4 linked regions of the Homo sapiens genome follow. The protein of the gene in region 3 interacts with the protein of the main gene of each other region in a pairwise test. Each region holds a gene or a part of one and is shown on either strand. Other genes may lie near its edges.

Region 1 (3,630 bases), on a different chromosome or scaffold from region 3:
TAAAGCAGAATTTTAAGGAAAATTTGTAGGCTTTAAATGCTTATCTTAGAAAAATTAAAAAGCTGAACATTAATGAGCCAAGCATCTAATTTAAATTTTAAAAAGAACATAGAAAGCCAAATATAATTTTTTAAAAAGAAAAAATAGATATTAAACAATATAACAGTGAAGTTAAAGAAAACAAGAATGCAATAAAGAGGAAAAACAAACAAAAAAAAAGGTAGCTTCTTTTAAAAGAAATTTAATAAAATAGACATACCTCCAATGAGATTTATCAAAGTAAGACAGAAGGCACAAATGGAATGAATACAGAAACTTTTTAAATATTACAGAACTTTATAATAAATCTTATGCTACTAATAAAATTGAAAGTACTGATAAAATTATTACTTCCTAGAAAAAATATTTCTGAGTAAAACTCACTCAAAAAACAAATAAAGCATGGGCAGACCTAACATTAAAGAAATGAAATCACTACTTTAAATTTTACCGACAGATAATAAAACGTGCATCTTTATCAAGCAAAAATGGAACTTGTCAGTTTTATAGGAAATTTAGAAGTCAAGGCATGAGTAATGCCAATCTCATACCAAATCCTACAAAGAATAGAAAATTATGGCTCCCGCTTATAGACATAGATATAGAACTCCTGCACAAAATAATATAAATAACAAACCAAATTTTATATTTGCAACTATACATATTATATGTGTATGTATTATATATGTTAACATATACATATATAATATGTATAGCATATGTTCTACATATTATATATGTATAGTGTATGTATTTTACAATATATAAATGAAAACCCAATCTTTAATATATTCATCTAGATTGTCATATATGACATATATAATACATTACATCAAAAATGTGTACAATAATCAGGCCAGGCACAGTGACTCATGCCTGTAATCCCAGCACGTTGGGAGGCTGAGGCGGGTCAATCACTTGAGTCCAAGAGTTTGAGACCAGCCTGGTCAATATGGCCAAATTCCATCTCTACAAAAAATATGAAAAATTATCCAGGCATTGTGGTGCACACCAATAGTCCCAGCTACTCGGGAAGCTGAGGTGAGAGGATCACTTGAGCCTGGGAGGTGGAGATTGCAGTGAGTCGAGATTGCGCCAGTGCACTCCAGCCTGGGTGGCAAAGGGAGACCCTGTCTCAAAAAAAAATTAAAAAATTAGCCAGGTATGGTGGCCTGTTCCTGTAGTCCCAGCAACTGGGGAGGCTGAGGTGAGAAGATCACTTTAGCTCAGGTGGTGGAGCCATGATCGCACCACTGTACCACTCGGCTTGGGCAACAGAGTGAGAGCCTGTCTCGAAAAAACAAATATATACACACAGTAATCAATATATATATTATATGTACCAATCAATGCTTCACTTTTATATATAATATAGATTACATCTTATTAGATATATAGTATTCCTTCTCCATAGATAGATAGATACAGATATAGACATAGTATCCTCTATCCATATTAGAGAGAGGATACTATATATATCTATAGCATATAGAGATGCTGTCTCAAAAAAATTTAAACATCAGCCAGATGTGGTGGCCCATGCCTGTAGTCCCAGCTACTGGGGAGGCTGAAATGAGAGGATTGCCATTGATCCTCTCATTGGTTGAGCCATAATCGCACTACTGCACCACTCAGCCTGGGAGACAGAGGGAGACCTGAGGTGGAAGGATATAGATATAGATATATAAATAAATATGTATAGAGAGAATATAATATATGTGTGTATGTGTATATATATATATTATGAAGACACTGGGAGAGAATACTATATATATATGTGTGTGTGTATATATATATTATGAAGACACTGGTGGGATGGTTTCATTACCAATTGGACCAAGAGTCCAGGTATGGAGCCAACATGCAATGTTGTTGTTGACTGAGCTGGCAGAGCACTGGTCATAGTTACGGGAAAAGAAGGTCTCCAATGAGACATACTTAACAAAATATATGAACTTGCCATATACGTGGAGAGTTCTGGTGTGTATATAGCCTTCTCTCACCAACCTAGCAATTGTCTTCATCATCATTATAATGCTATCAGAGCAAAGATGACAGCTAAATTTTTTTGTCCCTTTCTTCTTCTTTCTCTTCCTTCCCCTCCCCCACCTCTTTCTCTTCCTCCTCCTCCTTCATCTCTCTTCTTTTTTTTTTTGAGATGGAGTCTTACTCTGTCGCTCAAGCTGGAGTGCAGTGGCACAATCTCAGCTCACTGCAACCTCTGCCTTCTGGGTTCAAGCAATTCTGCCTAAGCCTCCAGAGTAGCTAGGACTGCAAGTGCACACCACCACACCTGGCTAATTTTTGTATTTTTAGTAGAGATAGGGTTTCACAATGCTGGCCAGGCTGGTCTCAAACTCCTGCCCTCAAGTGATCCTCCTGCCTCGGCCTCCCAATGTGCTGGGATTACAGGCGTAAGCCACTGTACCCGGCCTCCTCCTTTAATAGACAGGGTCTAGCTCTGTTGCCCAGGCTGGGTACAGTGGCGTGATCATAGCTTACTGCAGCCTCGAACTCCTGGGCTCAGGAGATCCTCCTGCCCTAGTCTCCCCAGTAGCTGGAACTACAGGCATAGCACACGGGGCTAATAAAATTAATTAGGTGATAAAATTCACTGCCCACTGATGACTAAGCTCTTTGGACATAAAAGACACAGACCTTGAAGGAAAATGTGTCTACTTAATTTTGAAACCCTATTTATCAAAAAACAGGATGAAAATGCAAAATGCCATCCACATGCCAGAAGATATCAGCTATAATAAGTTCCCATAAATCAATAAGGAAAAGAACCCAATAAAAATTATTAAACCACAGTAAATCATGGGTAAATCACAGAGGCCTGAAGGGCTAATGGACATACAAAAAGAATCTCAATCTCACTAGTGAAATCAGAAAAGCACAAATTAAGTACACAATTAGGTACCATTTTAAATCTGTAAGACTGTCAAAATCATAAATTATATAAGTAAAGACTCAGGGAGTTTTGGAGGAGTGAGAGCTCTTATATTGCTTGTGGGGTAGAATTGGAACAATTTCAAGATCTGTAGTATCTGGTAAAATTATGATATGCATCCCTCACACCAGCATGTCACTCCAAGGTATCTCCCTGGAGGGAACATTTACGGGACACAAGGAAGCATGGATAAGAATGTTCACAGTAGTATTGTCTGCAACAGCAACAACAACAAAAAAACCCAACTACACACAACTTCAATGCCCAGTCCACAAGGCAATGGATTAAATAAACTTCAGGCCGGAGATGGTGGTTCATGCCTGTAATCCCAACACTTTAGAAGGCCGAGGCGAGAGGACTGCTTGAGCCCAGGAGTTCAAGACCAGCCTGAACAAAATAAAGAGATAGTGTTTCTACAAAAAATTTTTAAAAAATTAGCCAGACGTGGCAGTGCTTGCCTGTGGTCCCAGCTACTGGGGAAGCTGACGTGGGAGGATTGCTTAAGCCCAGGAATTTAAGGCTGCAGGGAGCCATGATGGGGCCATTGCACTCCAGCCTGGGTGACAGAGTGAGACCCTGTCTAAAAGAGATAAGTAAATAACAACTTTGCATTTTCTGCCACATTGCAAAATGGTGAG
Region 2 (3,630 bases), on a different chromosome or scaffold from region 3:
AGAGGAAAGGATTGTTTAATCTCTTTCTTCTTAAAAAGTACCCTCTTGGGCATAATAAAAACTATAGGCTCAAACATGGAATGCATCAGAGATAAGAAGATAAAGCACTTACCCTTAAGAAGCTTGGTCTAATGGGCAGGGCAGAAACCAGTCCCAAAATAGTGTAAAAAGCAAAATGCTCAGCCAGGCCTGGTGGCTCACGCCTGTAATCCCAGCACTTTGGGAGGCTGAGGCGGGCAGATCATTTGAGGTCAGGAGTTCAAGACTAGCCTGGCCAACATGGTGAAACCCCATCTCTACTAAAAATACACACAAAAAAAATTAGCTGGGTGTGGTGGCGCATGCCTGTAATCCCAGCTACTCGGGAGGCTGAGGCAGCAGAATCGCTTGAACCTGAGAGATAGAGGTTGCAGTGAGCTGAGATTGTGTGCCACTGCACTCCAGCCTGGGCGACAGAGCGAGACCCTGTCTCAAGAAAAACAAAACAAAACAAAATAAAACAAAACAAAACTCTACCAGCACCAGGAGTAGATAAGAAGGAGCTCCTAACTCTGCTGTGGGTGCGGGAGAAAACTTGAAAGAAGTGACTTCTGAGCTGAACCTTGAAACATGAGTTCACAAAGTAGATTCAGGGAGTTGGGGGTAGAGTGGGGAATGGGACTAGGTATACAGATAGAGAAAACGTACTCAAGGCAGAGGAAAAAATACAAGTAAAGAAACGGCACTATAAGCTGATTTATATTATAAGAAAGCATCAACACCAAAAAAAGTCAGAATGAAGTGTGTATTTCATGCCAAAAAAATCAAAAGGAGAACAAGTAATTTCCACATTACTTTTAGATGTAATGCTACAACGAGTTAAAAACAAACAAACAGGCTGGGCGCGGTGGCTCACGCCTATAATCCCAGCTCTCAGGGAGGCAGAGGCGGGAGGATAGCTTGAGCCCAGGAGTTCGAGACCTGCCTGAGCAATATAGTGAGACCCCGTTCTCCACAAAAAGGAAGAAACAAACAAACAAACAAAGCAACAACAATACTGACACCTAGAGTAGTCAAATTTATAGAGACAAAAAGTAAAATGGTAGTTGCCAGGGGTTGGGAAGAGAGGGAATGGGGAGTTGTTTAATGAACATGTTTTTATTATTATTATTATTTTTTAAAGATAGGGTCTTGCTCTGTATCCCAGGCTGGAGAGCAGTGGTGCAATCACAGCTCATTGCAGCCTTGAGCTCCTGGTCTCAAGCAATCCTCCTGCCTCAGCCTCCCAAGCAGCTGGAACTACAGGCGTGTGCCACCACGCCTGGCTGTTTAATGGATGTAGAGTTTCGGTTTTGCAAGATGAAGAGTTCTGGAGGTTGACTGTGCAACAATGTAAATGTACTTAACACTACGGAACCATACACTAAAAATGGTTAAGATGGTAAACTGTATGTGTATTTTATCACAATTTTTTAAAATCTAAAAAAAACAAAAAACAAAACAAAAAAAAAAACTGAAACAAACCCCAAAACACTGGACCAGAAGTCAGGAAATCTGAATTCTATTCCCAACTATCGGCGTGATCCTAGGCAACAGCCCATCTGTACTTCAGGTTCCCAATTAAGGTCATAAAAGTTATAAAATGGGCTGGGTGCAGTGGTTCATGCCTGTAATCCCAGCACTTTATGAGGCCGAGGCGGGCAGATCACCTGAGGTTGGAAGTTGGAGACCGGCCTGACCAACATGGAGAAACCCCGTCTCTACTAAAAATACAAAATTAACAGGGTGTGGTGGCACATGCCTATAATCCCAGCTACTCAGGAGGCTGAGGCAGGAGAATTGCTTGAACCCGGGAGGTGGAGGTTGCAGTGAGCCAAGATTGCACCATTGCATTCCAGCCTGGGCAACAAAAGTGAAACTCCGTCTCCAAAAAAAAAAAAAAAAAAAAAAAATTATAAAATAATCTTTAAGGTTCCTTTGGTTCTGATTGTTTGTGATACCATATCATCTCATTTTTTTCTATATTATTTCATCCTTGTATAAAGCCACTAACTTGAGATGGTGATATTCTGGGCATAGATCTTTTCCCCTCAGACCAGTAGTTTACCACTGGCAATTACTTCCCTCTTGGCTTAAAGGTAACTACTGGATTCTACATACTTCTCTACAGCGCCTTTCCCCTTCTCCTCCCCACAAAGCCCTCTTCTAGGTCAGAAGGTTACTGGCACATGAGCAATAAAGGCTAGATAACTTTTGATGTTATTTGCTAATATTTGTAATTATTTAAAACCTCTTCTAGAATAAACTGATGTTATTCATTTTACTATTAGAGCAGATTCATATGGAAAGACAGATAAGAAATGAATATGGGTTATTTGATTTTTATATTATATACAGTAATATATATACACATAAAGATTAAAATAAGTACTTTAGTACATATACTAAATAAAGGGCTTTATCTTACACTACATAATTTTTTCAAAGAAAGAAAAAAAGATACTGATTCGGTACTATTTTTACAAGACCTTTTACTAGGGCATTCTCTGTTACACAGCCATTGGCAAAAAAGTTTAGCACTAAATCTAGGATTTCTCAGTAAGTGACAATGTTATATTTTCTCTAATAACCCTCACCTGCTTCACTTCAGTTAGCCCCATCCTTATTTTATATAAAATTAAAAGATTCTTAGTGCCAGTCTTTCCTCATCAGCTTTTGGGAAGACAAATAGGCAGCAGTCCCAGCATGAGTAGAGAGCCTGTATCAATTACTTGCCTCTCAATTTAGTGAGACTGAGGAGAGTTCAAATGAATTCCAACCCTTAGGCTCTCCTTCCCACACCATCCTAGTTTGTAGTCTCAGTGATAATATGAGCGCCCATTGACTCCTGTTAGATAGAGAAAAGACACTCTCCCTAATGCACAGTCTCTTGATCTCTTCCTATTACAACCTGCTAAACCCTTCTGCTGCAGATACATTAAGGTTTGAAAACTAACAATTTATGGCCAAACAATTAAGCGCGTGTTTAAGATGCAGGAAAAAAATGACACAATTGCTTGTGTTTCTGTTATAGTAGAAAAATTCCAGCCCGGCCAACTTGGCGAAACCCTGTCTCTACTGAAAATACAAAAAATTAGCCGGGCGTGGTGGCACATGCCTGTAATTCCAGCTACTCGGGAGGGTGAGGCAGGAGAATCGCTTGAGCTGGGGAGGCGGAGGTTGCAGTGAGCCAAGATCGTGCCATTGCACTCCAGCCTGGGCGACAGAGTGAGACTCCGTCTTAAAACAAATAAAAAATTAAAAAAAGAAAGAAAGATGACAATTAAAGGGTTTATTTTACCACCACCAAGATAAGTGGAGCTTGTGTAAGTTTTAAATAAATGCATCTATAAGGAAAAAATTGGAAGCTTTCCATTGATTCTTACATCAATGAATATAATTTTAAATATCATTAATGTTCATACTGTTTCATAACTTATACGATTATCTGAATAGTGTTTCAAAAGCACTTGAAATATCTTAAAGATCAAAAGGATCTTAAATGCGTCAAAAATAAGTAAACGTTTAAGTTTTTTTAGCAGTAGGAGAATTCTCATCTTTTTGGAGGGAGGATGGTCAAGAGCTTAGAGAACTATTACAGGTAAAGTACCC
Region 3 (3,630 bases):
CCCACATATTCAATACCGGAAGAGTCACCTCATCAGAGGATGCCACAGCCTGTTGGCTATTCCAGTGCCAAATCCTTCCCTCCCTTTGCCTTCTTTGCAACAAATGATTCCTTTTGTTTTTAAAACATTTTCTTTTGCTCTCTCTTTGTTTTTTGAGACAGGGTCTTGCTCTGTTGCTCAGGCTGAAGTGCAGTGGCATGATCATGGCTCACTGTAGCCTCGACCTCCTAGGCTCAAGTCACCCTCCTGCCTCAGCCTCCTGAGTAGATGGGACTACAGGTGTGCACCGCCACACCTGGCTCATGATTTTTTAGTGGAGACAGAGTCTCACTATGTTGCCCAGGCTGGTCTCCAGCTCGTGGGCTCAGGCAATCCACCTCCCTCGGCATCCCTAAGTGCTGGGATTACAGGCGTGAGCCACCATACCTGGCCTGCAACAAGTGATTTTTTCAATTAATCAAAATACAAAGTGAGGAGGGGGAATCCTGCAGGTTATGAGACCAAGGTCTTACCAGCTGTAGATTTCAAAATTTACAGATTGATCATGCCTTTGCTTAGGTCTTTCTTCAAAAACTATTACAAAACAATGACTCAGGATTTGCTGGGACCAGGCTGGGCATGGTGGCTCATGCCTGTAATCCCAGCACTTTAGGAAGCTGAGGCAGATGGATCATTTGAGGTCAGGAGTTCGAGACCAGCCTAACCAACATGGCGAAACCCCATCTCTACTAAAAATACAAAAATTAGTAGGGCGTGGTGGCGGGCACCTGTAATCCCAGCTGCTCAGGAGGCAGGAGATTCGCTTGAACCCAGGAGGCGGAGGTTGCAGTGAGCTGAGATTGTGTTGCTGCACTCCAGCCTGAGCGACAGAGCAAGACTCTGTCTCAAAAAAAAAAAAAAAAAAGGATTTGCTTGAGACCATACCTGCAAAATGTTCAGAGCCCTACGCATGTCTCCACTGGAAAGAGTGACTAGTGCTTTCATTCCATCTTCACTTATATCAACTCTGAAAGAAATAAGCAAAAGGGATTTATGAGGCCCCCTGAGAGCACCAGCATTCACCAAAGGAACAAGATGGCCTGGAATGATTAAGGCTTTAAAGGGATGAAGGAAGGAGAGGAACAGAGTTAATAATCTCCTGATCTATATGATCTAGAATTCACTCTGGTTTTTAGGGACCTGGGCTTCACATTAGTAGTCACAGCCAACCAAAATCGAGAACAGCCTGAATTTAGGAACAAGCATTCTCCCATGGAGCCAGTCGTCTTGAATTCTGCTCTCTGGGGAGGACAGAGGCCTGGCACAAGCCATGATCACACAGCCGAAACTCCTCCTTCACAACAAGCAGCTGCTCAGGTCGGCTACTTGCTTGGCATCTGACTACACAGAATGTGATGTCTTAGAACCTTCCCTTCTAGTCTAAAAAGGCTGGAAGCATCTTTGCAGAAGGGACTCAGCAGCCTGCAGTTTCCAATGACAAAGAAGAGTAGGAGGAAATTGGGACAGCTTCCAGGGGAGGAGGATGGAATCAAGAAAAATGAAGTACCAAATGACTTTTATGAGGAATGGCCTTGAGACAGCAGAGAAAATGATAGCAGTGGACGGTCCCCAGTGCCTCCCCTGTGCTAGGCACTCTGCAAAGTCGTTTTCCAACATTCCTCTCCTCTACATACGAACCAGCCAGTGATCCCACAAGCCTGTTTCTACTACACTCCATCCCCAAAGGCCCGCAAAATACTCACTTCTCTTCTTCCACGACATGTTCCAGGCGGGGAACCATGAGTTCAGGAGTCAGGGGACCGAACCGAAACCTCGTGCAGCGGGACTGCAAGGCAGGGATGATCTTTGACAGATAGTTACAGATGAGGCAGAATCTGGTATTTTCTGTGAATTTCTCAATTACTAGTAAGAGAAAATAAAACCACCTCATGTCAAAGTCCATTCTGATTTTTCAGAGAGCCCAGAAAACTTGAATTTTTCTGTGGTCACAAGGGTATAGGAAAAGATTCAATACTGCAAACAAGTGAGGATGTTGGCCGGGCGTAGTGGCTTAGTGGCTCACGTCTGTAATCCCAGCACTTTGGGAGGCTGAGGCGGGAGGATCACTTGAGGTCAGGAGGTTTGGCCAACATGGCAAAACCTCTACTGAAAATACAAAATTTAGCCAGGTGTGGTGGCACATGCCTGTAATCCCAGCTACTTGGGAGGCTGAGGCAGGAGAATTGCTTGAATCCGGGAGGTGGAGGTTGCAGTGACCCAAAATCATTCCACTGCACTCCAGCGTGGGCAACAGAGTGAGACTCTGTCTCAAAAAAGAAAGAATGTAAACAAGTGAGGCTGCAGCCTATGACAAGACAGGGCAGTGCTGGCCTGTTCAGATCAGAGATTAGCCACTCCTCTTTTTTCTTTTTTGAAACAGAGTCTCGCTCTGTTGCCCAGGCTGGAGTGCAATGGCACGATCTTGGCTCCCTGCAACCTCTGCCTCCCGGATTAAAGCGATTCTCCTGCCTCAGCCTCCTGAGTAGCTGGGACTACAGACACGTGCCACCACGCCCGGCTAATTTTTTATATTTTTAGTAGAGACGGGGTTTCACCATGTTAGCCAGGATGGTCTCGATCTCCTGACCTCATGATTCGCCCGCCTTGGCCTTTGGGATTACAGGCATGAGCCACTGTGCCAGGCCAATTTTTGTATTTTTAGTAGAGATGGGGTTTCATCGGTTAGCCAGGCTGGTCTCGAACTCCTGACCTCAGGTGATATGCCTGCCTCAGCCTCCCAAAGTACTGGGATTACAGGTGTGAGCCACTGCGCCCTGCCTAGCCACCCCTCTTTCACAAACTGGTAAACATGCCTCCGTGGGATTTTACAAAATGCTTCCTTTTTACCATTTGCCATGATTCTGGCACTTTTGCCATGTAATCCCATTAAGACTATGAGACTTCTTGTCCTTTTACATAAAATTATATTTGGCAGGTTGATGACACTTCACCTTCTATGGGCAGGGAGGGCGGCTTTTTGCAGACTTTTCCATGGAGACTGTCTGGAGGCCTTAGAGCACTCAAGGGAGCAATAACCCGAACAAAGAGTTGCTTATGACACCGGTTCCATTCTGTAGGTACCCAATGTTCTCACATGGGGATCTGCCCAGAATGACAGTCACTCGGCAGAACAAGATGCCGAAGAAAGGCTGCCAAGCTTCTAGGACCAGAAGATATTCTCGCTGTCCTCCTCCTCCTCCTCCTCCCCCACCTCTCCTCCTCCACCTCCCCCTACCCTCCTCCTCCGCCTTCTCCTCCCCCTCCTCCTCCTCACCCCCTCCTCTTCCTCCCCTCCTCCCCCCTCCTCCTCCTCCCCCTTCCCCCATCCTTCTCTTAACATGTGCTGCCATCTACTCCCTCGCCACAAACTCCTAAAGATCGTTCTTCTCTCAAAGCTGATTCACTTGGAATCTTAATGAGAGATGACAAGTGTCCTTTAAGAGAAAAGAACTGCGCTAGGCCCCTGAAGACAGACAAATCGCAGGGTGCTGTCCCTCCCGCTGCCAAATCATTCACTTGGCAAGCAGTGAAGTAATATCAGCTCTCTGAGCACCTCAACTTCAGATATGCTTTTCCTAGCCATTGTGGTTC
Region 4 (3,251 bases), on a different chromosome or scaffold from region 3:
ATTACGTGTTTCTGGGAAGTCAGTTCTCTGAGGGACACTCTTCAGCTGACCATGTGACATCATCCCATCTCTTTCTTCAGAAATTCCCTGGATTAATGTGGACTCACTGTCAATGTTGGTCTCAACATCTGACATAAGAGATAGAAAACACAAATAATGCCACCTGAGAACTATACTAGAAATAATAGAGCATTGAAAATGATAAGGCTTTAAAAGAGATCATTTCAACTTTCACATCAGCATGCTGGGAAGAAAAGGCTGTTAAAGTGAAAGTGCCAAATATCACACAGGCAGAGAACATTGAGGTGGAACAGGGTATCAGTGGACACAACACACGAGACTGCTTCCTAAGCTTTTCTACTCTAATATTTGAATGATGTCTGGTCATCCCTGGCATGAGCTAGTATCTTTTGAATTGATGCTACTTACAGCCTACAAAATGCCAAAGAAGGCACAGGTCTTAAGAACAAGTAGTGACATCGGGGCTGGCAAGACTTAGAATCAGAAAGTGAAACAGAACAGTATCAGAAAGCAAAGGCAAAGGATGAATTGTTGTTCTTTTTAAAAACTCATACCCTGCAGATGTCCCAAAAGACTTAAGACACTGAACATTACAGACACTGGGTTGTGGCAAGACAGAGAGAAAGAAAATCACAGAAGTGCTTAGAGAGTATTATTCCCAATATGTTGTAAGATTACCTAGTTCAGAGGTTCTTAACTGCAGAACCACACATGGACTATAGACGATGAGGAAACGCCCTAAAACTGCTGAACCTCAAACATGCAGAGAAACTACTGTCCTAGACTCTCTATTTGAAAAGGGATGAACAGTTTACTTAGACACACCCAGACTGAGAGTATTCTTTCTCCTATCAGCAAAAAGGAGACAAACAGCCCATAAAATGGCATTTGTGTTCCAAAAGATTGGATGACATTTTAAATGAGTTAAAGTCAATCCATTTTATATGAAATGATGGGCTTGGTTTTAACATTAATGTGGGTTACCTGGGACTCATGTGATGGTTAATCAAGTTCATCCTATGAGTGTGAGTTAAAGGAGTAAGGGAACTCCGAAGGAGAATGTTCAGAGGAGAGTAATCTGAGATTGAAGTAAACAAGGTAACCAAGAGTCTGAAAAAGAATAATCACCAGACAGAGGAAGCGTGTGAGAACAAACCAACAGGTTCTCAATTGTCTTGATGATTCTTTTTCAGATTCTTAGAATAAGAGGCTGAAGTGCTGTGCTAGCTTCATTATTTTCCACGTATTTGCTCTCTGCAAACCACCTGCACTGAAACTCCTGCCTCTGCCTTCAATTTCACTGTTTGCTCTTGGTGGCCCCCATCTATTTGACTGTCTACTTTCTCTTCCTTCTCTCACTGAAATTAAATATCCCTTAATGGTTAAGATTCAGCCTTCATTTTTTCTTCCTGGGGATCGTTTCAACCCAGCTGTGTTAGAGTACTGTTTCAGACCTGCCTTTTATCTCAGACTCTCCACCCACCTTCTCAATGGCCTGCTCTAGCCATCCACTTGCCTATTCTAAAGGCACCTCACGCCCTGTGCTCAGCTCTGAATTCCTATGAATTCAAAAAGCTCCTCCCATGCCATGACTTCCTAGTGTTATCTGACTCAGCTCTCCCCATTTATGGCCAACTTTTGGGAAGATCTGGCCCATTTTACCTTCACATTCTCCGTCCCACTCCCAACAGCACTTAATACTTTTCTTTTTCGCTTTTTACATCTGTCTCCATAACTTGTACCTGCCAGAACTTCTTAAACAACGTTCAGCACATGGCAAGTTGCTCAAAAACTGCTCCTGAATAAATCCATCCCAACCAAGGAGGACAACTAAGGTAGGCAATGTTGAAACTCAGAAAGGAACAATGGATTCAAGGATTGCAGATGAGACGTACTGAGTGATTACATGTTGGTAAGAGTTAAGATTGGTGAGAAACGTTTCATATTTTACCTATTAGGTGAAATCATCTATTTTATTTAAATCCTGCCCAGCATGATTCATTTTAAAATACAGTGCTCCATAAAACGCTACAATTGTTGGTTCTAAATCTGCCTCACCTACCTTTACAGACGTTTTTGGTCCTCTCTGCTGGGGGATCATCCTGTGCTTCCAGGCCCCAAGCCATGTCCCCTCTCTCCAAAAGTGAGATCAGTGCAGGTTTGGGAACTGGGTACCCTGAAAACAGGAAGAAAATGGTACTTTTCAGCCCTGTATCTGCTGTGTCAAAAGAAGGAAAACCCCAGGAGTCTCAGTAAGAATAAGACCCACAGAAGAGGGTTCTCGACTGGAGAAGGCCAAAGAGATTCCGATCAACAGGAAACTGAGCATTTGTGACTTCTTCCTAAAAAAAACACTCAAGGATAAGTAAGTCAGTGAGATCCACAAGGCATGAGCAAACACAGGGAAGGGGACATGCCCTTCCCCAGACAACAACTACTACTTATTCCTTACTGTGCAGAGCCTCTTGGAAGATGGAACATACTCTTACCAGGGGACAGTAATTCCCTTCATTGGGAGACCAAAGTGACCCAAGACCTCTCCCTACCCAGCAATCTTTGAAGTTGGTCACTGAGCCTCAGCTCTGCAGTCACTCAGTGGAGGACACAAGAGACAACCTCTCCTCTCCACTCCACACTCCTCCCCCCAGGCTGTAAAAGAAGGAAGGAAACTGGAAAAGTACAGATCTGAGTCCTAGGAGGAAAATGGCCTTACCCAAAGCAGTCAGGTTCCCAAAATTCTCCAACATCACACTTCTGTACAGGGCCCTCTGGGCAGGAGAAAGGCCAGTCCATTCTGTCTTGGTGAAGTGCACAGCCACATCCTCGAAGGTCACCATCTCCTAAAACAACAGGTTCCTGCTGCCCCAGAGCCAATCCTCTGGCTCCGGGCCAGAGTGTGGGGCAGAGGGGACAGGTAGGGACTTGAGGGAAAGTCCTGTGAGGGATAGGTAATGAGAAAATGTGACAGAACTGGATATTAGACCATTATATGACTATTTTTACAACGAAAAATCTGGAACTTCTCTCACTACCAGAAGAGATTCCATTAGGATATAAAATTGACTGTCATAAAATGTGATTTAACATTTTTTAAACCCTAGGAAAAAAAGTCTCTTATTAGTTAACCTTCCTAGGGCAAAAATCTCTTTGATTTAGTAAATATTTTCAGTCTTTTACTTTTGTACCTACAGGTGGACAATTTGCTTCAAATGGTATCTCAGGACCCACCT

The links. The genes of interacting proteins can lie anywhere in the genome.
Region 1: the proteins of RFC5 (region 3) and TRIM38 interact in binary tests that used the Homo sapiens proteins (3 or more experiments, as listed by UniProt).
Region 2: the proteins of RFC5 (region 3) and XIAP interact in binary tests that used the Homo sapiens proteins (3 or more experiments, as listed by UniProt).
Region 4: the proteins of RFC5 (region 3) and ZNF19 interact in binary tests that used the Homo sapiens proteins (3 or more experiments, as listed by UniProt).

Annotation. Positions count from the first base shown.
Region 1 is NC_000006.12:25,976,231-25,979,860, reverse strand, and holds part of TRIM38 (E3 ubiquitin-protein ligase TRIM38), read right to left. Parts: exon of another isoform or gene 1,766-3,630; intron 1-1,765. UniProt on the Homo sapiens protein: E3 ubiquitin-protein and E3 SUMO-protein ligase that acts as a regulator of innate immunity. Acts as a negative regulator of type I interferon IFN-beta production by catalyzing 'Lys-48'-linked polyubiquitination of AZI2/NAP1, leading to its degradation.
Region 2 is NC_000023.11:123,901,482-123,905,111, reverse strand, and holds part of XIAP (E3 ubiquitin-protein ligase XIAP), read right to left. Parts: intron 1-3,630.
Region 3 is NC_000012.12:118,023,123-118,026,752, reverse strand, and holds part of RFC5 (replication factor C subunit 5), read right to left. Parts: intron 1,903-3,630; coding exon 1,743-1,902; exon of another isoform or gene 1,739-1,742; intron 1,007-1,738; coding exon 925-1,006; intron 1-924. UniProt on the Homo sapiens protein: Subunit of the replication factor C (RFC) complex which acts during elongation of primed DNA templates by DNA polymerases delta and epsilon, and is necessary for ATP-dependent loading of proliferating cell nuclear antigen (PCNA) onto primed DNA.
Region 4 is NC_000016.10:71,476,145-71,479,395, forward strand, and holds part of ZNF19 (zinc finger protein 19), read right to left. Parts: intron 2,862-3,251; coding exon 2,735-2,861; intron 2,198-2,734; coding exon 2,084-2,197; intron 129-2,083; coding exon 1-128. UniProt on the Homo sapiens protein: May be involved in transcriptional regulation.